Homo sapiens: one gene and its partners. The protein of the gene in region 5 purifies or fractionates together with the protein of the main gene of each other region. This does not show direct contact. Each region holds a gene or a part of one and is shown on either strand. Other genes may lie near its edges.

Region 1 (3,500 bases), on a different chromosome or scaffold from region 5:
CAGGAACATGCCACCACGCTTCAGCCTGGGTGAGAACAGCTTGGAAAACATAACAAGACCTTGATATATCTCAAAAATAAATAAACATATATGTATATATGTGTATATGTGTGTGTGTGTGTATATATATATATAAAATGATGTAAACATATAATGATGTAGGAAAATACAATATAGTAAGTTAAGATTTCAAAAATCAGGTATTAAAACAATATCAGTTTTGTTTTTAAAATATATAAATATGCATAGAAAATCAAAAAGTATATATTCTGTAATAATAAAAGCTCTCCCTCTGAGGAATAGAAATGATTGTTGATGTTCATTTCTTTTAAACACTTTACTTTTCTATTTTCCAAATTTGTTATAATCAGTGCTTATTATTTATAAAGTAAGAAAAATGGTAGGAGGCCAGATGAGGTGGCTAATGCCTGTAATCCCAGCACTTTGGGAGGCCGAGGTGGTAGGATTGCTTGAGTCTAAGAGTTCAAGACCAGCCTGGTCAATATTGTGAGATCCTGTCTCTACAAAAAATAAAAATAAAAATAAATTAGCCAGGCTTGGTGGCCCACACCTGTGGTTCCAGCTACTCAGGAGGCTGAGGTGGGAGGGTCACTTGGGCCCAGAAGATTGAGCCTGCAGTGACCTGTGATCCTGCCTCTGCACTGCAGCCTGGGCAACAGAGTGAGACCCTGTCTCAAAAAAAGAAAAGAAAAAGGGTGGGAAAAGTATTAAATTTTACTTCAGAGTGAGAATCTTGGTTTAGTTAAAGGAGAGAATTTTCTAATGATAATTTTCAGTGGGTTCAAGAAAAGAAAAAGCAGCTTTTTAACTCATCTGTTTATTTGTGTCTAAAGATAAGGATACAGAATAATTTACTTCTCAAAATTTCTTCTAAGCTCGAGTTCATAATTGTTATTATTCCTTATTTCTTCTTTCAACCAGAGTTCTATATACCCCTGGCCACACTGATGATCACATGGCTCTACTCTTAGAAGAGGAAAATGCTATCTTTTCTGGAGATTGCATCCTAGGGGAAGGAACAACGGTATTTGAAGACCTCTATGATTATATGAACTCTTTAAAAGAGTTATTGAAAATCAAAGCTGATATTATATATCCAGGTGGGTAATTTTTAAATTTTTTTATATTTTTATGTTTTTAAATAGAGACAAGGTCTTGCTATGTTTTCCAGGCTGTTCTCAAACTCCTGACCTCAAGCAGTCCTCCCACCTCAACCTCCCAAAGCGCTGGGTATACAGGCATGCCAAAGTGGGTAGTTTTTCAAACCTAGCAAACCATTTGTGTCAAATGATGAGGAAGGTTCATTTTGGCTTGTCTCTGTATGTATTTGGCCTTGAAGAGATAACATATAAGGCCAGGCTCAGTGGCTCACACCTGTAATCCCAGCACTTTGGGATGCCAAGGTGGGCAGATCATGAGGTCAGGAGTTCAAGACCAGCCTGGCCAACATGGTGAAACCCCATCTCTACTAAAAATAAAAAAATTAGCTGAGTGTGGTGGCGCACACTTGTAATCCCAGCTACTTGGGAGGCTGAGACAGGAGAATCGCTTGAACCTGGGAGGTGGAAGTTGCAGTCAGCAGAGATTGCACCACTGCATGCCAGCCTGGGTGACAGAAGCAAGACTCTGTCTGGGGGAAAAAAAAAACATATCAACTACTTCTTTAAAATATACCCCTCTTTGAGAGGCCTAGGTGGGCAGATCACCTGAGGTCAGGAGTTCGAGATCAGCCTGGCCAACATGGTGAAACCCTGTCTCTACTAATAATACAAAAATTACCCAGGCGTGGTGGCAGGTACCTATAATCCCAGCTACGCGGGAGGCTGAGGCAGGAGAGTTGCTTGAACCTGAGAGGTGGAGGTTGTAGTGAGCCAAGATCCGCCATTGTACTCCAGCCTGGGCAACAGAGCGAAACTCTGTCTCAAAAAAAAAAAAAAAAAAAAAAAAAAAAAAAAAGGAAAATACACCCCTAAGTCCTGTCTAGCTGTGCAGTTAAACTTAAAGAGAAGGCCAAGAGCCATATTAATAACTTTTGATAAAGATATGAGGGTTATTTTTCAACATACAGTTATTAATAGAACTGTTAAAAAGACATAAACTTACATTGAAATGGGAAAATGTTTTCATTCCATAAACCACTGTTATTTTTGTTAACTTGATTTTTATTTGGACCACATTTTAGCTGTGTAACTTTGGGTAATGTTTGACCTCTGAGCTTTAGTTTTTTTAATTTACAATATTGAAATACCAATAGCTTCTATATCAACTATAAAATGGTATCTTTATTTCCATTCTCCAGAAAAAGAAACATGTTAGTGTCTCAGATCTCACTAGACTGTTCTACAATATCAATCTCTCCTTCATCTGAAGAGCTAAGAAATGGCCAGGCGCAGTGGCTCACGCCTGTAATCCCAGCTCTTTGGGAGGCCAAGGCAGGCAGATCACCTGAGGTCAGGACTTCAAGACCAGCCTGGCCAATATGGCAAAACCCCATCCCTACTAAAAATACAAAAATTAGCCAAGCGTCTTGGTGGGCACCTGTAATCCCAGCTTCTCAAGAGGCTGAGGCAGGAAAATCACTTGAACCTGGGAGGCAGAGGTTGTAGTGAGCAGAGATCACGCAACAGAGTGAGACTCCTTCTCAAAAAAAAAAAAAAAAAGCTAAGAAAGACACAGGACCCAATAAAAAGGCCCAAAAGGAAAAAGGGACTAGGTCACTTAACTTCCTAAGTTCTTCTAACTTGCGATTAACCAAGCCATTGAAAGATCCGTCCATCCAGTATCTTCAACACATTTACACTCTGCGATGAGTTCCTACTGCTGGGGGAATAGAAAACATACGGTAGAGCTGGGCATTTAGATTTATATGATGACATTAAAGGATTGCGGGCTGATAGCTTTGGGGGGGTTTGTTTGTTTGTTTTGCTTTGTTTTTGCTAAAGACAGCTATTTTTAAAGCGAAGAGGGCAGACGTTGAGTGAATTCACATTCAAGCTAAGCTAATGAGAGGCTACCTAGTAAAGATTCTAGAGTGCTTTAGTGAATCCAGTGAACTGGCTTACTAGCACAGCAGTTGTTTATATGTAAATTATGCTCTGTAGCCATAGCTACCATATATTAAAGTCTTCTAGCCATCAGGTTTTGTGCAGGGGCCTTTACAGTTGTCATCCTCACCAAAACCCATGTAAAGTAGGTAGTGGTTTCCTCACCACACAGCAGAAGAAACAGCTTAGAGAGATTCAGATACTTCCTCATTTATTAGCCACACAGCAAATAAATGATAGGTCTGTGTCTAACCAGATCCCGTAATAGGTTAGCCTGCTTCTGGATATTTTGTTCTCAAATATTTAAGAACATCATTCTTGCAGACTTATATAATATATAATATTAATGTGTACTGTCTTAAAGGGGAAGTAAATTATAGTATAACTTAATCTGGGTTGTCAAAATTTCTGACATACAGAAGCCTATACATAGGA
Region 2 (3,500 bases), on a different chromosome or scaffold from region 5:
CAGGAAGAAGAAGAAATTTGCCAAGCAGATGTTGTGGGACAAAAAGAATAATTTATTAGAGGTAACAGCTAGCACAAGATGACTTCATTAGCAAACACAATGGTGTAGCGGAAAACCAACCAACCAACCCTCATCCAAGTTCAGGAAAACTGAATTTAAATTTCAATCTCAAATAGCACTATGATACTGGTCAAGGGCTTTCACACTTAATTTTTCCTTATCTATAAAATAAGGGAGCTGGACTAGTTGCTCTGTAAGTAATCTTGCTTCTAAACAAATTTATGAGGATGCTGATTAGTAACAACAGCTAATATTTACTAGCACTCACCATATGCCAGGCACAATGGTACACAGTTTACACTTATTATGTAGGTATTACAATCATTCCCATTTTCACCAATTGAAGAAACTCAAGTTCTGAGTGCTTAATTCACCCAAAGTGTCTAGTTAGTAAGAAGGCCAGACCTGGAAGATCTAATTCCAAAGCCAACACATTTAGCCTCTATGCTATGGTTTCACCAATAATGCAATTCCAAATCCCTAAAGGACAGTGCCATAATGAGCGTCTATTGTACTATGTTTAAAGTGTTTACTACCTACAATTTTTTTGTGGTTGAGATGGAAGTCTTGCTATGTTGCCCAGGCTGGTCTTGAACTCCTGGGCTCAAGTGATAGATCCTCCTGCCTTGGCCTCCCAAAATGCTGGGATTACAGACATGAGTCATCATGCCTGGCCTACAATTTTTTTTTAATACCTCCATTTTTCAGTATTTTTCAGATACTTACTTTAGGCCTAAGTATCAAAATGCTCATTCTTTTTTATATGTCAAATTGAAATCTTCCTAAAATATGTTATACATGTCTCTGACTTTGTAAATAAGAGAAAAGTAACCAAGTTTAAACTTTTCGTGAAGCTCAAGGTTACGCTTATACATATTAATTATTGCCTGAGGCCTCTGAAACTTTAAGGTAAATATGGCTCTTTGCCCTTCACTTTCTTGGGTCAGCTTCTTACATTTTGGTTTCTTTTCTTTCAGTAATCACAGCTCCTCTTTACACTGGTAATTTTCTGTGGACTGAAAAAAAAAATCAAGCTTCTAAGCTTATCAGAATTATTTAGTAAAGATATAGCTGCAAAAAAATTACTTTCAGCCATTTTTCTTATTACAAGGTGGCCTGTGATGTAATACCATAAACTAACTTTCATCACCAATTTTGCTGTGATTTGATTATCTAAACACACTTCCTCTGTTTTGAATCTTTGATATGGCACATTCTCACAGTGCATGACATCCTCCTAAGATGATTCATAAAGAATTAAAAGTTAAAGTATTATGTCCCACAGATCACACGATCCCAGCATTCCAGAAAAAAAAAAAAAAAGCTTAATGCTTATTAAAAGATACAGGTTAAGTTTTAGGTAGGTTCAAATCATCCTAATATTTTTCTTGAGATTATGGGAAAAAAAATTTTAAGGAATCACCTGCAAAAATCCTAAAGAGAATGTGAGAGGGAGATACTAAAACCTATTTTGAAACCACACATCATTAAATCAGTTTGGTATAGATAGAAAAAGAGCAAGAAATCTGTTTATGATAAAGATGATGGTTCAAATTATTAGTAAAGAGGAACTACATTGTTCAATTCCCACCTATGAGTGAGAATATGTGGTGTTTGGTTTTTTGTTCTTGCGATGGGGATTATCACACTCTGGGGACTGTTGTGGGGTGGGGGGGGGGGAGGAGGGAGGGATAGCATTGGGAGATATACCTAATGCTAGATGACGAGTTAGTGGGTGCAGCGCACCAGCATGGCACATGTATACATATGCAACTAACCTGCACAATGTGCACATGTACCCTAAAACTTAAAGTATAATAAAAAAAAAAAAAAAGAAAAAAAAAAGAATGTCAGAAATTACTAGAAAAAATATTAAACAAAATAATATTTACTTAATACAGATAAGAAGTTTTAAATATGATTTATTGAACATTTCACCTTAGAGCTTCTCAGTCTTACCAATTTAGCCATTCTAATAGTTATAATGTAGTATCTCATTGTGGATTTAATTTGCATTTTCCTAATATCTGTTATAATATATACCACTTAACGTGCAAAAAAAAAAAGAGGAACTATAATAATAAATGGTATGAGAACTGTCAAAAAAAAAGTATACACTTATTTCATGCCTTACTTCAAAATAAATAATGGAAAGGTCAAATGTCCAAAATGGAAGAAAAAATGAAGTTCCAGAAGAGCAAATTTATTTGTAATTTTACAGAAGAGAAAAGGTCTTTGTAAACAGGATACAAAATCCAAGTCACAAAAGAGAAAAAAAGCGATACATTTAACCCCACAAAAAGTAAAAGACCATTGTAGAATAAGAAAATAAATGAAGTCAAGAGATTAACTGGGAACGATATTTGCAAAACATGATAAAAAACTGATTTCCCTAATTTATAGAGTTTATACAAACCAATAAAAAACAGACCAACTAAAAGAAAAATAAACAAAAGACATAAACAATCATTTTTCACCTATCCAAATGGCAAAATCTAAAAAGTCTGATGATGCCCAGTGCTGTTGATGGTGTGAGGGAACCATCGGTCTCATGTCTGCCAATGTGTGCCTAAGCTGACGAAACTCATGAAGAGAGTAATGCAGATATAGTCTCAAAAGTTGTCAAGGTATATGTACAAAGGTGATCACGACAATCCTGTTTAATTGCAAAGATGCACTGGAAACAAAATGTTTATCATACGGGAATAGTTAAATAAACATCCAGAAAATGGAATACTATTCACCATTTAAAAAGGGAAGAATAAATACATTTCAATGTGGAAAGCAAAGTGCAGAAGTGTTTACAGAACTTTTTAAGCGGGAAAAACAGATGAGTAAGTAAATTTTCAATGTTTTTCTGAAATTAATTACATGGACCTGTTGAGAATGGCTGATTTGTTCACAGGCATTGGGGAGGGGAGATCTTTACCTTTCAGTCCTAACTGTGGCATTTTAAAATCCACATCTGAATTAATTTAATTTTACTTTTTAAAAGTTAGGAGTTATCTAAATAGTAAAATTTTGGCCAATTTTTGTCTTCTTTATTCTTTTCTGTTTTAAAAACACCTAATCAATTTTATATTTTAAAGAGAGGAACCACATAGGTAGGAAAAATAGTCAATGGGATATTTTACTTTATTCAATACAGCTTTGCTTTTTTAAATAACAAGCTCATAATATTGTTATAATTTCTATCAGTTTTAATTCATTAAATTTTTAATTATCTGCACTAATAAAAGGAAAATGTTTAGAATCTCAAACCAAAACACTTTATATAGCCTATGTACATCTGAATGAACATTTATGTTCCAATGTAAAAAAAGATCTTCCTCTATTTTATATATTTTTTAAAATGACTAAAAGCATTAATAATTAGAAAAGAATCTATACTAATGTTTCTCTGTCTACTGAGGGCACCTGTATCTTATACAAGCTGACAT
Region 3 (3,500 bases), on a different chromosome or scaffold from region 5:
GGTTTTCTTCTGTCAAGAGCTTGGTGTTCAAGTCCCAGCTCCACCACCTTCTAGGTGTATGGGACCATACCTCAAGCCTCAGTTTTCATACCTGCAAAATGGAGACACCACCACCTAATTCACAGTTTCAAAGGAGGCTAAATTTAAAAATGACGTTAAATGCTTTGTAAACTATCACGGAATATGCTAATAATACTGTAAGAATGAACGAGAATTTCCCACAGAGTAAACATAAAGCAGGTCATAACAAATCATAACCAATTGAAGGTGATTCAGCAATACAGCTTTAGATTCAGAAAGACCTAGGTCCATGACTCCACTTCCTATTACGTGTGTGAATTCTTGTGAGTGAAGTAAGCTCTCCAAGTCCCAATTTCTTTCTTATTTTCCTCCTTCATCTGTAAAAGCAAGACAATAAGACCTACCTCCAAGTGTTAGTATAAGGATTAAATGAAGTAAGTATTTAAAGCTATTGTTATTATTATTCCCACAATTCACCCAGAGTAATCTTCCTATTTTATTTTTTGAAACTCTTGAACATGTTTTGTAGAATAGCACAGAATGGTCTTTCTAAATCATGTTACTCCAGGAAAAAAACAAAAAACAAAAACAAAAAAACTTTCAAAGGCTTTCCAATGCCCTAAAGATAAAGGTCCAACTCTTGCAGTAGGGTTTACAAAGCCTTTCAGAATATGGCACCTGCCCACCTCTCCAGCCTCACTTTCCACATTTTTCCTAAAATCTTATATATACACCCTATACTATACTTTCACTTTTTTTTTTTTTTTTGAGATAGAGTCTCTCTGTCACCCAGGCTAGAATAAAGTGGTATGATCTTGGCTCACTGCAACCTCCACCTCCCAGGTTCAAGCGATTCTTTTGCCTCAGCCTCCTGAGTAGCTGGAATTACAAGCGCCTGCCACCACGACTGGCTAATTTTTTTTTTTGGAGATGGAGTTTTGCTCTTGTTGCCCAGGCTGGAGTGCAATGGCATGATCTCGGCTCACCGCAACCTCCACCTCCTGGGTTCAAGCGATTCTCCTGCCTCAGTCTCCCAAGTAGCTGGGATTACAGGCATGTGCCACCAAGCCTGGCTAATTCTGTATTTTTTGTAAAGACAGGGTTTCTCCATATTGGTCAGGCTGGTCTTGAACTCCCGACCTCAGGTGATCTGCCCGCCTCAGCCTCCCAAACTGCTGGGATTACAGGCATGAGCCACTGTGCCCGGACTGTAATTTTTGTATTTTTAGTAGAGAGAGGGTTTCGCCATGTTGGCCAGCCTGGTCTCGAACTCCTGAGCTCAGGTGATCTGCCAGCCTCCTCAGCCTTCCAAAGTGCTGGGATTACAGGCATGAGCCACCGCACCCGGCCCTTTCACTTCTTTAAATGAGAGTAGCACGCACTCTCTCCCCTCCAGGCTTTCACAATCACTACTACCTGTGCAATTCCTTCCGTCCCTCACCTCCAACTCATTCTTCAGGTATAAGCCTAGAGGGCATTTCTTCTGGTATATCTTCCCTGACTCCCAAAGCACCCTATTCTTACCCCATCACAGCACTCCCCAGGCTGACTTGTAAATGTTTATGTGTCCATCTCTGGACCATATCTTTCTTATTCCTCTCTGTTTCCTTAGCATTTAGCAGTACACATGGCCACAGTAAGTGCTCCATAAAATATTTGTTGAGCAAATGAATCTTATTTAGATCATATCACAAAAAGAATTTTATATCCAAAAATTATTAGTGATCATAATGCTAGCTGCTGTTTACTGACCACCTTATATGTGCCTGACATACCACATGTGTTATCTCATTTAAATTTGGCCTTATTAATAACCCAGTTTTACTTAATCTCTGTATGCTTGTTTTCTCATCTTTAAAAGAGGCATAAAATAATTATATCTCATAAGGTTACTGAATATTAAATAAGAAATATATGCAAAAAACTTAGCATAGTGCTTAGCATATTATAAATGATCAGTAAGTAGTAGCTTTTGTTATTCTATACGATTGAGACTTCTGAGGCTCAGAGAAGTTACATCACCTGTACTGGTCACATAACTGCTAAATGGCCAAGCTGAGATTTAAATTGCAATCGTGTGCCATTCTGGTTTACTACACTCATCTTTCAGATTTTTCTTTCTCAGAAATAAATTCAAATCTAATTTTCATCAGTGCTACCACAGGGAAACAAAAGGTCATCCAGATGAGCACATGCAGGCAGTATCGAAACTAACCATCCTCACTTTTCATTCCCAACAGCATGGGATGCTGTCACTTGCCTAAGGCTCAAGATTTGACTCTGAAGAGTGAGTGATTGAGAATGAAATTGAGAGGATGCCCAGGAGAACTGCAAGGTGTCTAACATGATCACCATCACTCTATTGGTCAATATCTAAACTCAGGCAACTGAATCCTGCTTTGGCAAGATGCCCAACCAGACAGTCTGAAGGGATATACACCTACAAAACAATGAAATCCTAGATAAAATGGACTTTCAGAATGTGCTCACTAGACTCAGTAATGACAGAACCCTCCATAAACACAAAGCAAGCTAAAACCTATGAGCAACAAGCAAGTGAGGCTGCCCTGAACGCAAGCGTCCATTATGATGTGGCAAAATGGAGATGAATCTGAAACTCCCACATTAACACAACCCTCAAAAGAGACTAAAGTGATTCCACGTGAGTGGTACCCCCTGGTTTTCAGATGAATCAAATGCCAAAACTTTCTGGAGGAAAAGATTCTCCACTTTAGGCTTCCAGGATAGCCAATGAAGAAGAACAACCATTATGAGCTCACAATCATGGATCACCAAAAATGTGAGAAAAGAAGTCGCCACAAGAACACAAGCAACAAACAGATTTTGATCCCTGAGGAATTCAGATATTAGAATTATCAGCCACAAAATACAGAAATAGCTATGCATGAAATGTTTAAAGAAATAACACATGGAATCACAAAAACAGGCATGCAGCATGCAAAATAAATAGTCAAATCTGGCCAGGTGTGGTGGCTCATGTCTGTAATCCTAGCACTTTGGGAGGCCGACGTGGATGGATTGCCTGAGCTCAGGAGTTCGAGACCATCCTGGGCAACATGGTGAAACCCTGTCTCTACTACAATACAAAAAAGTTAGCCAGGTGCCGTGGTGCAAGCCAATAGTCCCAGCTACTTGGGAGGCTGAAGTAGGAGAATTGCTTGAACCTGGCAGGCAGAGTTTACAGTGAGTTGAGATCACGCCACCACACTCCAGCCTGGGTGACAGAGCAAGACTCTGTCTCAAAAAAAAAAAAAGAAAGTCAAATCTGTGAAGTCATCAAACAGAACTTCTAGAAATTAAAAATACAGTTTTGTTGAAATACAAAGTGAATGAATATGCAGTGATAAAAGGAAAGGAGTAATCAAGCCACGAAAAGACATTGAAGAACCTTAAACATATACTAAGTGGAAAGAGCAATTTGAAAAGGCTATATACTACATAATTCCAATTACATGACA
Region 4 (3,500 bases), on a different chromosome or scaffold from region 5:
CACTGACTGGAGAGGCGGTCACAAGCACACATTGTCCCAGCTCATCTTCTGGTACCTGCCTGTGCTGCAGTCCCGACTCCAGCTGCCTGACCTTGAACAAAGTACAAACTGTCAGTCTCCATCCCGTTTTGAATGGGGGTATTAAGAAGACTCAGGCTGAATTGCTTGAACCCAGGAGGCAGAGACGCAGTGAGCCGAGATCACACCACTGCACTCCAGCCTGGGCAACAGAGTGAAACTCTGATTCAAGAAAAAAAAAAAAAAACTCAGGCCAGGTGCAGTGGCTCATGCCTATAATCTCAGCACTTTGGGAGGCTGAGGTGGGAGGATCTTGAGGCCAGGAGTTCGAGACCAGCCTGGGCAACTTGGCAAGATGCTATCTCTCCAAAAAAATAGCCGGGTGTGGTGGCGCATGCCTGTGGTCCCAGCTACTAGGGAGGCTGAGATGGGAGTATTGTTTGAGCCCAGGAGGTTGAAGCTTGCAGTTAGCTGTCTTCATACCACTGCACTCCAGCCTGGGTGACAGTGACCCTGTGTCAAAAAAAAAAAAAAAAAAAAAAAAAAAAAACCTGCACCAAGGTGTGGTGGCATCTTAGCACTCTGGGAGGCCGAGGTGGGAGGATTTCTTAAGGCCAGGAGTTTGACAGCAACCCGGGCAACATAGCAAGACCCTATCTCTACAAAAAATTTAAAAATTAGCCAGGTGTGATGGTGCACACCTATCGTCCCAGCTACTCAGGGGGCTGAGGTGGGAGGGTGGCTTGAGACCAAGAGTTTGGGTCTGCAGTGAGCTGTGATTGCACCACTGCACCCCAGCCTTACAAAAAAACAAAACAAAAAAAGACGTGCACCCGGAAAGTTGTGACAACACTGTGTTTTTACATCAGATGATGTCAGTGAAGAGCATTCAACTTGGTGTTGGGGGCTAGAGGAAAGCTCAAGGTGGCAGGGAAAGTGAAGGAGTGGGGCATTTGGGTGGAGCAGGGCTAAATGGAAAGAAGGGACAAAGCAATAAAAATAAGTGGTGAGCAAAGGGGAATAAACAGGCTGAGAACAGAAGTGGCAGCTCAATACTGGAGGCACAGGCACTATTACCGTGCTAACATTTGATATCAAAGGAAGACAAAATCTAAATGTAAAGTCAGGAGTGTGTAACTGTCACACACACTCCTTTTTAACACCCCTGGGGCTTGAACAAGAACGGGGAGAGGTAGCAGATACATTCATGATGTCTTACTCAGTAGAATTATTCCAGATTTTCTCCCCTTTAAAGAGACCACTATCAGCTCCCCTTTAAAGAGACCATTATCTTTCTCCCCTTTAAGAGATCATTATCAGCTTTCTTCATCCTTCTTCTTAGGCTGAGACAGGTGAGAAGGCAGCCATGAAAATAAATGTCCAAAGGACTATGATGGACAGTGCTCTGGAAAGGGACTCATCAGGTAGAAAATGAATACATCCTGGCTGGGTGTGGTGGCTCACGCCTGTAATCCCAGCACTTTGGGAGGCCGAGGCGGGCGGATCACCTAAAGTCAGGAGTTCAAGACCAGCCTAGCCAATGTGGTGAAACCCCTTCTCTTTTAAAAATACAAAAAAATTAGCCGGGTTTGGTGGCAGGAGCCTGTATAGTCCCAGCTACTCGGGAGGCTGAGCCAGGAGGATCACTCGAACCCTAGAGGTGGAGGTTGCAGTGAGCCGAGATTGTACCAGTGCACCCCAACCTAGGTGACAGAGCGAGACTATCTCAAAAAAAAAAAAAAAAAAAAAAAAAAAAAAAGAAACAGAAAAGAATCCAGGGGCTCACTCCTGTCATCTCAGTACTTTGGGAGGCCGAGGTGGGAGGACTGCTTCAGCCCAAGAGTTCAAGACCAGCCTGGGCAACATGGTGAAACGCTGTCTATATAAAAAAATACAAAATCACCTAATCGTTAAAAAAAAAAAAAAAAAAAAAAAAAGCCAGGTGTGTGGTGGTGCACGCCTATAGTCTCAGCTACTCAAGAGGCTGAGGTGGGAGGATCACTTCAGCCCCAGAGGTGGAGGCTACAGTGAGCCAGGATCATACCACTACACTCTAGCCTGGGGACAGAGTGAGACCCTATCTCAAAAGAAAAGAAAAAAAGAACATAAATACATCCAGAAGTATTATTGCTCTTCCTGGGACATCAGGGCCACCAGTGCTGCCTGTACGTCTTCTGCCTGGGATGGGGGCAGCCGACAGTCCTGAATGAGGGCCACAGCAGCTGCCTCTGTCAGGCTGCTGAAGTCCTGGGATGTTTTGACAGGGAGGTGCCCAGCCAGCTCACAGAGGGCAACATTGAAAGCTTCACCGTCCTTTATCCCAAAGCTGGACTTCCGGGCCCACAGAATTACTCGGACCCCTGTGAGGGCTGAGGAAGGTGATGTCTTTCCCGGCGGAGCTCCCCGGGTGACAAACAAGTTATGAGCAATCTCATGGTCAGTCAGATAATCAGTGGCCCGACATACCCTGCTTATCAAGGACTCCAAGTCAGGCCCTGGCCCACGAGTGTAAAAGAGGAAGCCAGGAGCTGGGAGGTCCTGGAGCAGATGCAAATGGCCTCCAGGGTCCAGGGGCTCGCTTGGCGCCTGCTCCACGGGCAGTCTGTGGGCCAGGTAATAGCCATGCAGGTGGAGGTGGTTCACCGAGGCCAAGCCTCCCAGGCTGTTGAAGCCGACACGGAAGCCCGGGTGTAAGCTCAGCAGCACAGCCTCAATCCCTGCCCTCAGTGCACCCGGCAGCAGGCGCTGGGGGAGCTGGCGGGCAGGCTCAGGCACCAGCAGCACGTGGCCCCACTCCAGGGGGCTGACGTTGATCACCACCAGGATGTCTTCTTGCAGCAGAGTCCCAGGGAGATCAGGCTCCCGGTGCAAACGGAAGAGGACTTCTCCGGGCCGGATCTTGTTGAAGTTGAACTGTACAGGGTCAAATGCCTGCCTCACACTCTTGATGGTCTGCGGGGGCCTCCTCTGCACACCACGCTCCACATTCAGCTGAGCCACGAAACCCACAGCACCAGGGAGGATTTGGGTCTGTAGCTCCCGTAGACGGTAGCGAAACAGCCCCAGCTCCACCCGCTGCTTCCAGGCAGAGCAGAGTGCAGCATCAAAGGGAGATTGTGGCAGAGCATCTGGGATGCCAGGTGCATTCCTTGGCCACTGAATCCCTTCTGCCATGAGATCCTTCTGCCCATAAACAAAGTCAGGAATGGTTTGCCTGCCCCAGTCCTCATTGTTGGGAGGCAGCAAATAGGAAGTTTCGTTTGAATCATGTGGAAGAGCCATAGAGCTGACCTGAAATAGTCATAAAAGATGAAAACACATGATGGTAACCCACCTCCAGAGATTGTCATTGTATTTATTTATTTATTTTTTTTTTTGAGATGGAGTCTCACTCTGTCACCCAGGCTGGAGTGCAGTGGCAGTGATCTTGGTTCACTGTAACCTCCGCCTCCTGGGTTCAAGCGGTTCTCCCGCCTCAGCCT
Region 5 (2,837 bases):
TTCAAAATACCATTCAACTCTTCATTGTTCATAAGAATCTTATTTGAAGATCTAAATGGTTGGGGGTGTTTTCTGTGTGAATCTGTCCTCGAAAAAGATTTAAATGTTTCTCATTCATTTATAGTCATGGAAATGTTAGAGTTTCACTGTGAAGGCCTTATTATGTGAGACCTTCCCCAAAGAGAGTTCTTCCTTTTATATCAGTTGTATTCTATTCCAAATAAACTGCTTACAATTCAATCTTTTAGAGATAGGGTCTTGCTATGTTCCGTAGGCTGGAGTACATTGGCATAATCATACCTTACTGCATCCTCATACTACTGGGCTCAAGCAATCCTCCCACCTCAGCCTCCCCAGTAGTTGGGAATACAGATATGTACCACTACACCCAACTAAAATTTGGATTGTTATTTGAAAAAATGGTATTCTATTTTTTAAAACTCAATCCATGCTTGTGAAGCAAAATATGTAGACTTCGAATAGAACCTAACAGATTATAGTTCTCTGTCATAAAGTCTATGTGGTTTAATGATAAAAGGTTAATTTAAAAATTTTGTAAAGTATAAAATAAACAATTTTATTAGATGAACTCATTTATTTGACATATTAAATTAGACAAAGAAATATATATGTAACCAGATAAAAACAATCACATTCTCATACTACTTGAACACATAGCAGTGGTCAAAAATAATGGATTGTAAAATGGACCCCAGGATTTAATGCAAAAACCACCCCATACGAGAAAAGTTTCAGGCTTCTAACTTCACTGAATCCAGTACTAAACGTGCTTCTTTATATTCCTCAGCTTCTTCCAAGTCTTTTTCATTTTCCTAAAATGAAATACAATAAAAATTAAGTTTATCCTTTTCAAGTTTCAGTACTTTGTTATTTACTCAAATATTACAAACCATTAATGTTAATAACTAAAAAATTAAAAGTAAAAAATCCCAAGCCTCATCTAAATATATTGTAATTCCACAGGTTTCCCACATTCTGTTCCTTCTTTACAAGGAAAGGAAGAAATAACTGGTGGTTTTGTTTCACTGTATATATTCTCATAAAATAAGTGAATAACAGTCTTCTAAAGCTACCAGCATTAATTAAATAAAAACCTCAGAAAAAGTTTATTCTCATTTTGTTGACCCATCATCATCATACAAAAGAGAAAAGTAAAAAGGAAGATTTACTAACATGTTACATATATGACAGCATTCAGGCCAAAATAATCCACTGACTATTCACAATGACAAAGAAGGCTTCTGATGTCACAACAGAGTTAAATATAATCTTTGAATTAAACAAATGAATTGCCTGCTTGCTAATGGGTATTACATACCCTACACTAAAGGAAACAAAATACATCTTTCATTTTCTGATATTTAAAGATTGAGTTTTTCCATAATACTGATATACAGGCAACTTTTACTAATATATTGTAATGATAACAGACAAATGAAATAATATTATCTAAAGTACACAGGAAATTTTGTTTGATTTTTAAATGAAGCTATGGTTAGCAATTTATGTCAGGTCAATAAAAGATGGAGATATACAAACAGTAGAGGAAATAAAGTATGTGTGTATTTAATATGAAAACTGAAAGCAAAACGACTGAGAATTTGCTTAGCTCAAACTATACGTAAGAATTTCTTAAACCTCCATGTTATACCTTAAACACATCTTTGTTCTCTGTTAGTAAATACAAGCTCTTCAAGGGCAGAGATATTGTTGAATACATCTTCACATACAAATATATCATCCAAATACATTATTATTATTATTATTATTTTGGTATTTTTAGTAGAGACAGGATTTCACCATGTTGGTCAGGCTGGTCTTGAACTCCTGACTCGTGATCCACCCACCTCAGCCTCCCAAAGTGCTGGGATTACAGGCATGAGCCACTGCACCTGGCGGCCAACATTATTTTTTTCCAAGCAATTTCTATTACTTTCTCAGCTACTAGATTCATGAGAGAAAAAAGCATTTAAACTGTCAAGAAATACAAATGATGCTTCCTGTCTTAGATAGTATTTTAACAGTTATTATTTCCTGCTTTATCTACCTTCTGTATCACAAGGCATTTATACCAGCAAGTATAAGTGTTATTCAGCTCCAAGTTAGTATGAGGGGACTACATAGATTACCAGGTTTTTTCCCCCTCTCAAACTGATCTAGGTTTGAATGTGAAAGAATTCAAGATCCTTTTAATAAGATCCCAAATTCTTTTGAAACATTAGATCTTTTAAAATTTTAATCAGTCAACTCATCCTCAATGTCTCAAAAGATCTTTATGTATGAAAACCAAATAATCAAGACATTGCTGGACAATACTGGTACTATCATAACTTAAATAAATTTAACTAGCTAAATTTTAATAAACTGAACAAACATGCTAGAAAACAGTACTTTTACTGGAGGCATAATTCAAAACACAATTTAAACTCCATTAATTATTTTAAAATATAGCGGTATAAAGGGCAAGTGAATAAGAAATACTGCCAACTAGTTCTCAGTGTTAAATATTTAAACTTTTGGCTTTCCATGTATTGGATTGAAAAAAAAAATTTAAACATGACACAGAAGTCTTTGCTTACTAGTATCCGTTGAAGATCCAAATATGCGGCTTCCAACCTGCGCTGGCAATCTGGGATCATCATCCTGGATTCTTGTAGGATCTCTGCCTAGAATGAGAATCTCTGTGAGACGTTCAAAGATGGCAGAACTTGTAGGTGTTTAGCTCATATCTTGGTAAGTATATCCTTATTAAGAGGAATCAGAAAAAAGTTATGGTTATGTTAAATGGTTCAATATTTTAACTTAAATTGTATTTA
Region 6 (3,940 bases), on a different chromosome or scaffold from region 5:
GAGCGCTAAGCTAGTGAAGTGAAGCTGGGCCCACAGGCAGAAGACACCAGTTCGCCCAGCTGCTGCCAGGCAGGGGTCCAGGCTCCAGCCTTGCCAAGGGCGTCGTCTGCACAGCTGTGCCTACACTCGCCCAGCACAGGGCACAAGGCACACGTGGCACATCAATCGCCAAAAACTCTGGGAGTTTTTGCGTCCTCAGAAGGGGGAGAGCCACACCTTCTGAGGATCCCACCAAACTACCACAAGACCCTGGTCTCCATCCCCTCCTCGGCCCCAAACCCCATCCCCGATGCCCAGGAATTGGGGAGCTCGTGCCTCACTTCCAACTCCCAGGAATGGGGGGTGCTGGAGTCCCACCTCTGGCTCCTGGGTTGGGGATCTCCCCCTTTCCTCGCAAGCAGCAAGTGGCAGGTGTGTCTCTTCACCACAGGGCCCTGACAACGATCAGACACCAACAGATGCAACCCAGCACAGAGCAGACAGCAGACGCTGGTGGGCCCCAACCCCGCCTGTTTCCTCCACAGGTGTTGCCCCTGCACCACCCTTACCCCGCCAAGCCCAGGCTCCCAGGCCTCCCCTCCTCCCTCCTGAGGGAGCAGTAAGCTATTGAGGTGAGGCTGGGCCCGCAGGCAGAAGACACCAGTTCACCCAGCTGCTGCCAGGCAGGGGTCCAGGCTCCAGCCTCGCCAAGGGCGTTGTCTGCGCAGCTGTGCCCACTCTCGCCCAGCACAGGGCACGAGGCACACATGACACACCAATTGCCAAGAACTCTGGACGGGCCAACACTCCGCTCTTCCTGGGTCCCCTGAGTTCGGCTCTGCCCAAGCGTGAGGGCACAATGAGCAGACTACTGGGGGCCCTGGCCAGCCAGAGAGTGCAGAGGGCAGACAGTGAGTGGATGCGGGCCTTGCAGAAGCACAGCCACACCACCACCGCTGGAGACAGGGCGGAGGCACAGGCTGCCTGCCTGCCTGGGGAGAGACCAGTGGCAGGGCGGTCACCAAAGCCACCTTCCATGGAGCACACCCAAGGGAGAAAACTGTGGCCCAGGCCTCAAGGCTCCTGCAATCTTGCGGTGGAAACCACGGAGCCTTTGCCCTGACCAGAACACATGCGCCAAAGGTGTCTTCCTGTGGGCAGAGGGAAGCATTCCAGCAAACATTCTGTGCTCTCCACTCTCACCAACCCACAGTCGCAAACTCCAATCAGCTGCCTGGCAAGAAGCCACACAACCCACAACTGTAAGGACCTGCCAGGCACGTGGTCTCCACAGGAGCTCCGAGATGGAAGGTCTCCTGGGAGCCGCCGGCGCAGATCCATGTTCCGGAATGGTCTCTGCCAGAACGCTCCCTGGACTGGGCTCCCATGCTGCCCCAGCAGCCGCTTTCCTGGAAAGGCACTCCCTGCTGTGGCGGCATAATCTCCTCCTTCTGGCTTCCAGCCATCCTAAGGACTGAACAGAGTCACCACCTTGCCCCCGGCCCACTGTTCGAGGAGATGCTAACAGAGGGCTTGACCTTCTGAGAACCGAGAGAATTCAGCCCCCGCCTGGCCTCTCGTAAGACACAAACCACCAGACGTGGGCCTGGGCTCTGGGCTGGGCCAGGTGGATGAAGGGGAGGCTGGTGGTCCAGGCGGCTGCTCTTGGCTGCAGGGTTTCTGGGCACACATCCGGGTAGCACGCATCCTGGCCTTCAGCAACCTCGTTTTAAATGGGACCACACCAGGAGCAGCCAGGGCGCTTTCATTTTCACTTTCTTTCCCCGGGGGGGACAGGAACATTCCTTTACCTCCTGAGGAAATCGGGCTCTTCCAGAGCCACAGAGGAGTGAAGGCCCCAGCCCTTCACGATGCTGCGCGGCTATGTTTGGGTCTGTCCATCAGGGAGAAAGAAAAACCGGCCGAGTCTTGCACAGGGTCCTCGACAGCAACCCCAGGTAAAGAGCAGAGCAAGCCTGAGACAGGAAGGGGCCATGAGCCCAAAGACAGCAGAGCAGGACCCAGCCCGGGGCCTCAGGACCGACCTCTTTCATGCAAAGACGAAACCGAGGCCCACCACACGCAGGGTCAAAATCAACTTTGAGGCACCTGCTTCCCACACCAGTCCTTACTGGGGCATACTTCTAAGGCGACGCTCAAGAATGGCAGCAGGGCAGCTTCAAGAACCCCAACCCGGACTCTGGCTTTGGAGAATCCGAACCCCAAATGCCACACCCATGCGTCGGGAAGGCCTGCTGTTTCCCCAAGTCCCCGTCTCTGCGCCGTGCCGCGGAGTAGGCAGAATCCTGGGAGCCCCGGAATAGCCGGCTCCATCCGCCCAGGACCCCAAGGCTTGCAGGGTGAGGTGGGAACCGGAGCGCACACCGCGCCGGGCCAGCGGTAGGGACTCCCAGCTGCTCTCTTTGGCGGCGCGCCCAGGTGTCGGGAAGACACCGAGCGCTCCTATACGCCCGGGGAGCAGCTCGACACTGCGATAACTGCCGGCCTGCCCAGCTCCTGAGGAGCGCCCCGCCCTCCGGGACCCGGGCTCCGCTGCGTTGCCAGCCCGTCCGCCCTCCAGAGCTCCCCCGTTCTCAGGGCCCACAGTTGAATGCGGCACAGGGCGTCTCGGCTAGGAGGAGATCCGGAGGCGGCGTGGACTGGGCGACCGCAAAGCGCAGGGACCGCTGCCGCCTCGACCCGAGTCACCCTCGCGATCGCGCTTGTCGTACTCACCGTCCGGTGGGGCCCGGCCCAGGGCGGCCGCAGCCAGCCCGGCCAGCGGGCGCCGCAGCATCCGGGGCCACCTCTTCCGCCCACTGAACCTACGTGACAGCGCCGCACCGGCCCACCTCCGCCCGCGCGCGAGACTGACGTCATGAGGCGACTGCCCCGCCCATGTCTCACTCGTTCTTCCCCGCCCCTTAGGGAAGTACTTACCTCAGTGCCTCGCTAGCCCCGCCTCCACCTGCGCTGGCCTGTCGCGACCGCAGGGGCGTTCAGCACAGCGCCCTCCCAGCCCGTCTTCTCCCGCTGCGTCACAGCGCCACGCCGGCCCGCCTCCACACAGCGCGAACTAACATCACGACCCGCCGGCCCCGCCCACGGCGTACTTGTCCCGCTTGTCACTCAGAGAAGTACCTCAGTGCAGCGCGGGCCCGGCTTTCATCTGCTACGTCACAGCGCTGCCTCAGCCCGCCTCCTCCCGCTTATGTCACAGCGCCGTTTCCGTCCTCCATCTACACTGCAGGGACCTAACTAACGAACGACTCCGCTAGCCCGTTCCAAACCGGCCACTCTCCAAAAACCATTAATTGGGGAATGTGGCCGGGCGCGTGGTTCACGTCTGTGATCCCAGCTCTTTGGGAGTCCGAGCCGGGAGGACCGCTTGAGGCCAGGAATTGGAGACCAGCCTGGGGATCATAGGGAAACCCCTTCTGTACCAAAAAATTTAAAAACTTTTTTGTGCCTGTAGTCCTTGCTACTCGGGAGGCTGACGTGGGACGGTCGCTTGAGCCTGGGCAGTCGAGGCTGCAGTGAGCGGTGTTCGTGTCACTGCACTCCAGTCTGTGTGACAGAGCGAGACCCTATTTCTTTCTTTTTTTATTTTTTGAGACGGAGTTTCGCTCTTGTCACCCAGGCTGGAGTTCAGTGACGCCATCTCTGCTCACTGCAACCTGGGCCTCCTAGGTTCAAGCGATTCTCCTGCCTCAGCCTCCCGAGTAGCTGGGATTACAGGCGCCCGCCACCACGCCCAGCTAATTTTTGTATTTTTAGTAGAGACAGGGTTTCACCATGTTGGCCAGGCTGGTCTTGAACTCCTAACCTCAGGTAATCCACCAACCTTGGCCTCCCAAAGTGCTGGGATTACAGGCGTGAGCCACTGCACCTGGCCACGGGACTCTATTTCTAAAAATTATTTTAAATTTTTAAAAAAGATTTATTGAAGGCTGGGTGCAGT
Region 7 (4,273 bases), on a different chromosome or scaffold from region 5:
CAGGGTCAGGGCTGGCACCAAGGAGGCCTGATGATTCCCATCAGGATACCCTTTCCCCTAATCATCCTGTCTCACTCTTTCTACAAAGTTTAACACCAATTTTTTTTTAAGTATTACATCAATCATTTATTCTGATTTTACTGAATGACAGTAAAGAGAAACCATTTACAGACATGAAGCTCGAAAATGTTCTACCTCCCAATGCACTAGTATTTCAGAGACTTGGAATATATTTGGAGATGTGGAAAATGATTACACTTTAGTAACACTGAGTAACAATTTTAGGCCAAGTATACTACACTCATATTTTTTTTGAAGTGAGACATTAGTCCACCCTAGTACTGCATACAGACACACTGAGTAATAAATATCCAATCTGTGATCATCTTTATAAAGGGCAATTTATTCGTTGCTTTCCCCTTACCCCATTCGCCCTAGAGTGGCTTCGTTTCACTTTGCCCTACCCCTTCTAGCAGGTAGTAAACAGTCCTGGCCAGTGATGCCATCTGGCGGTTAGTTCAGAAATTGTTTAACCAACACACCTTCCAATCAGGATCTTACCATCGGGACCCTCTCCAAAACCACACTCCCCTTTCTTCCAGTTTTTGCCCATTTACCTTAGTAAAATCGGGTTTTCTTCTTTCCTGCCCTGTTTATCCAACTGAATGAAAAACGTATTTTATTTGTGGCACTCTAGTTACAGAAAAATCATGAGTCCTAAGTACATTTGCAGCTAAAGAAACAAACCAACAATAAGAGGCCAACATACTCCCAAAAATGCCCCCATTCGACATCCTGTCTTAACAGAGACTGTTAGAATCTCCGTTATTCATCCAATGCCTTCAGGGAATACCAGTGCTGAGAAGGACCTTGAGGATCATCGTTTCAAGGTCAAAAGCTTCATTTTACAGCTGAAGAAACTGGCTCTGTGAGAAAGAACTGAAGTAACCACCCACCCAACAGCACACAGCGAGTTAACGGCAGAGCCAAGATTATGGCCTAGGACTCCCCATTCCAAATCCGGTACTGGGTCAACTACTCTGTGCGCTCCTGGCTTCTCAAGCCTGTTTTTGCTCAACCAGTGTATTTACTTTTTCCATAATTATAGTAATATTGTGAATCTCTGTACTATGCCTAACAGTGTCTAGCACACTTCATAAATATTTATTATTTGGGTATCTATTAATTACCGTACTTATTGCAAATCTAGAATACTTGCAGTAGACAGGCCTTTTTTCAATCTGCTTAAAAAGCGAACTGCCACTTCATAATTTTTTCTGACTATTCCCATTAATCATCACATGGTAACCTTTTAGAACATAATCCATTCAGAAATTTGAGACTTCCTGTTCACCTGATCAGTCTTAACCAAAGATAGAAGAAAATATGTGGCATAGGGTGAAAACTGCAACCAATTTTGAAGAAAATAGAAATTCTAGTACTAGTTGCATTATAATCACACGACTTTAGGCAAACTCTTCTTTCCCACAAAATAATCCTCGACCCTAAACTCATGTAGCATAACTGCAAATCTCTCATAAATTACAAATATCTATAATGATTATCGGTATTAACAATAGTAATTTATATTTTAGGCCCTGTGACTAATCAGTTTACATATATAATGTCATGTAATACTTGCAGCCCTATTTTACGGATGAGAAAAAACAAGGCTTAGCAACTTAAACTCGTCCGGGGTCACAGAGTTAAGACGTGAAGAACTCGAGGGCCTGCTTAGAACTGAAAGCCTCCAGAGCCAGTGCTCCGAAAAGGGGAGCGATAATGCAAGGCCCACTTTGATACTACCACTCCAAGGCTCTGCAGTCAGTGGGGAGTGAAGGCAAGCGACCGACATCGCTATTTTCTGTTACGGTTAACGTACACAGTGAAACAATGGGGTACACGGAACAATGAGTCACGAAGACCTGGGTCCTTTCTCTGAGCTCGGCAACTCAGGGACCCCCCCGAAGTCGCTTAGCCTTCTGGGCTTGTTCAGCTTGGGGAGGAAAAGGGGCTGCTCCGGAACCAACGAGGCTTTGGATGGTGGATCACACTCAGGGTGTAAACTTGTGCGTACCAAGTCAAGCTTCTGGGGAAAGAACCTTCATCAGAGTCCCTCCAAAAAAAGAAGACGCGCTGGATTAGGCATCCGCAAAGTTCCGCCTGCCTCTCCGACGTCAGGGAGCTCCCGCAGTAGGAGGTTTCTTACGCCTCTAGGAAGGCCGGCGTGTGGGCGGGCTCTGCCTTCCCTTCCTCACTGAGTTGTGTGAACCGGGAACGGCGGCCGGGCCGGCTAATGGCTGCAGGCCGCCGCGGGGTGGCCGCTTGCACTCTGCCTACCCCTCGGGGAGGGCGGCTGGCAGGGCACAGGGCGCTATCTACCCCCCAGCCGGCAGCCCTGCGCCTCTGCTCTCCGCTTTGGGGTCTTGATCCGCCGCCTCCTCGCTGGCAGTTCTCGTGACTCGGTGCGCGCTCCCGCGGGAAGTAAGGTGGCCTGGACCGCGCGGCTACCGCTGAGGGCCCCAAAAAGAGAGAAGGGAGACCGCGCGGGGCGTCCCAAGTGTCCCCCATTCCATCCCCCACCCAGGTTTCTCCGGTGCGCCGCTCGGCGAACCTCCGGGAGCTACTTACTAAAGAAGAGGCGGTAATTCTGCGAGCAGGGCTGGCCGCGCTCCTCAGTGTGGTACAGGGCCATAGCACGGCGCGACCCGGTCCCTGCACTGGTCCCCAACCGCAGGCACGCAGCGGCTGGGGCACCCGTGCGCAGCAGCCGCAGCAGCGCGCTCATGGCGTCAATGACGGTCCTGCTGTGCGCGCGGAGCTACCTGGGGGCTCGGCCGGGCCGCACGCCGGTGCCCCCTACCGTCCGGAGTCATCCCTCCCGCCCCGGCGCTCGGGCTGCGATCCTGGTCCCTGCCAGTGGAATCTGGAACACCAGCCAGTTGTGCGCACTATGCCCTCAGCGAGGCCGCAGCTCAAAGACGAGTGAGACAAGACCCACCACCCCTGAAGAGCTCACTGCCACTCGTTAATTCATACATTTATTCATGCCTTCATTTATCCCGTCAAGAATTACTATCATGATTTTTTAGTATAGTGATGTAATATTGAGTGATTACTCTGTGCCAGGAACTGCTCTAGACCCTGTCCAATATAGGAGATGAGCGCACATGCACGCAAAGACATCACTATAAGACAAAATGATCAGGCCACCACGTGAAAACGGGACGTTGACACCGACTTACAGAGCAAAAAACCCTAAGTAGCTTACTCAAATGCCATCTTCTCCATAAGGCCATTTCCTAACCCAGTAGAGATTATTTATTCTTTCTTTTATTTTATTATTTTTTGTTGTTGTTTTGTTTTTGAGACGGAGTCTCACACTGTTGCCTGGGCTGGAATGCAATGGTACAATCTCGGCTCACTGCAACCTCCGCCTCCTGGGTTCAAGCTATTCTCCTGCCTTAGCCTCCTGAGTAACTGGGATTACAGGCATGCGTCACGACGCCTAGCTAATTTTTGTATTTTTAGTAGAGACAGTTTCCCCATGTTGGTCAGACTGGTCTCGAACTCCCGACCTCCATTGATCCGCCTGCGTTGGCCTCCCAAAGTCCTGGGATTACAGGCGTGAGCCACCGCGCATCGGCCAGGCGGGGTGGCACACACGCCTGTAGTTCCAGCTACTTGGGAGGCTGAGATAGGAGGATGGTTTGGGCCAGTATCCAGGAGAATGGATATTGTAGAACAACCAGTAGTCTGCCACGTGTCATTTTATTTTTTTCTAGTCCATCTTCTTTGGGACTATCATCATCTAGGCTACTTTCCTACTGGGCACCCAGGTTCTTTCAGCATCTCCAATTATCGTGTGATCATTAAAATTGAGATACTGGTCTACCCAAGTTCCAGAAAGGATTCCTAGGAGATATTGTGACTAGCTACTTAGAGACACTCTACTAAGATTATAGATCCTAAAATGTTTTTGTCAACAGTGGTACCTTTGTAATGTGTCAACTTGAATAGGCATAACTATAAGGCAAATGCTCCCATAAAAAGGAGAGAAAATCTCTTCTGTGCATATATCACAGAGTTGTATAATTTTTTTGTTTATGTTGAAAAAAAGCTTAATTTTTCTATTAACTTTTGAAGATTAGATATTTAAATAAGACAAATTCCTATGGAGGCAGGGTTGTAGGCTAATTTCTAATGATCTGTGGATACTTAAAGTATCCAGGCTGGGCGTGGTGGCTCATGCTTGTAATTCTAGCACTTTGGG

Evidence for each region.
Region 1: the proteins of TBCA (region 5) and LACTB2 fractionate together in Homo sapiens (co-fractionation; one large-scale study listed by BioGRID). This does not show direct contact.
Region 2: the proteins of TBCA (region 5) and MTPN purify together in Homo sapiens (affinity purification with mass spectrometry, with the first as the bait; one large-scale study listed by BioGRID). This does not show direct contact.
Region 3: the proteins of TBCA (region 5) and TXNDC12 fractionate together in Homo sapiens (co-fractionation; one large-scale study listed by BioGRID). This does not show direct contact.
Region 4: the proteins of TBCA (region 5) and GDPGP1 fractionate together in Homo sapiens (co-fractionation; one large-scale study listed by BioGRID). This does not show direct contact.
Region 6: the proteins of TBCA (region 5) and GUK1 fractionate together in Homo sapiens (co-fractionation; one large-scale study listed by BioGRID). This does not show direct contact.
Region 7: the proteins of TBCA (region 5) and PPA2 fractionate together in Homo sapiens (co-fractionation; one large-scale study listed by BioGRID). This does not show direct contact.

What each region holds. Positions count from the first base shown.
Region 1 is NC_000008.11:70,641,686-70,645,185, reverse strand, and holds part of LACTB2 (endoribonuclease LACTB2), read left to right. Parts: intron 1-942; coding exon 943-1,121; intron 1,122-3,500.
Region 2 is NC_000007.14:135,967,360-135,970,859, forward strand, and holds part of MTPN (myotrophin), read right to left. Parts: intron 1-3,500. UniProt on the Homo sapiens protein: Promotes dimerization of NF-kappa-B subunits and regulates NF-kappa-B transcription factor activity. Plays a role in the regulation of the growth of actin filaments.
Region 3 is NC_000001.11:52,041,692-52,045,191, forward strand, and holds part of TXNDC12 (thioredoxin domain-containing protein 12 precursor), read right to left. Parts: intron 1-3,500. UniProt on the Homo sapiens protein: Protein-disulfide reductase of the endoplasmic reticulum that promotes disulfide bond formation in client proteins through its thiol-disulfide oxidase activity.
Region 4 is NC_000015.10:90,240,709-90,244,208, reverse strand, and holds part of GDPGP1 (GDP-D-glucose phosphorylase 1), read right to left. Parts: intron 3,310-3,500; 5' UTR 3,301-3,309; coding exon 2,143-3,300; 3' UTR 1-2,142. UniProt on the Homo sapiens protein: Specific and highly efficient GDP-D-glucose phosphorylase regulating the levels of GDP-D-glucose in cells.
Region 5 is NC_000005.10:77,690,666-77,693,502, forward strand, and holds the end of TBCA (tubulin-specific chaperone A), read right to left. Parts: intron 2,688-2,837; coding exon 2,601-2,687; coding exon of another isoform or gene 2,457-2,600; exon of another isoform or gene 834-2,456; coding exon 753-833; 3' UTR 501-752; downstream 1-500. UniProt on the Homo sapiens protein: Tubulin-folding protein; involved in the early step of the tubulin folding pathway.
Region 6 is NC_000001.11:228,139,139-228,143,078, reverse strand, and holds the start of GUK1 (guanylate kinase), read right to left. Parts: upstream 2,801-3,940; 5' UTR 2,777-2,800; coding exon 2,716-2,776; exon of another isoform or gene 1,446-2,715; coding exon of another isoform or gene 1,250-1,445; intron 1-1,249. UniProt on the Homo sapiens protein: Catalyzes the phosphorylation of GMP to GDP. Essential enzyme for recycling GMP and indirectly, cyclic GMP (cGMP). Involved in the cGMP metabolism in photoreceptors. It may also have a role in the survival and growth progression of some tumors.
Region 7 is NC_000004.12:105,471,263-105,475,535, forward strand, and holds the start of PPA2 (inorganic pyrophosphatase 2, mitochondrial isoform 1 precursor), read right to left. Parts: upstream 2,801-4,273; 5' UTR 2,789-2,800; coding exon 2,632-2,788; intron 1-2,631.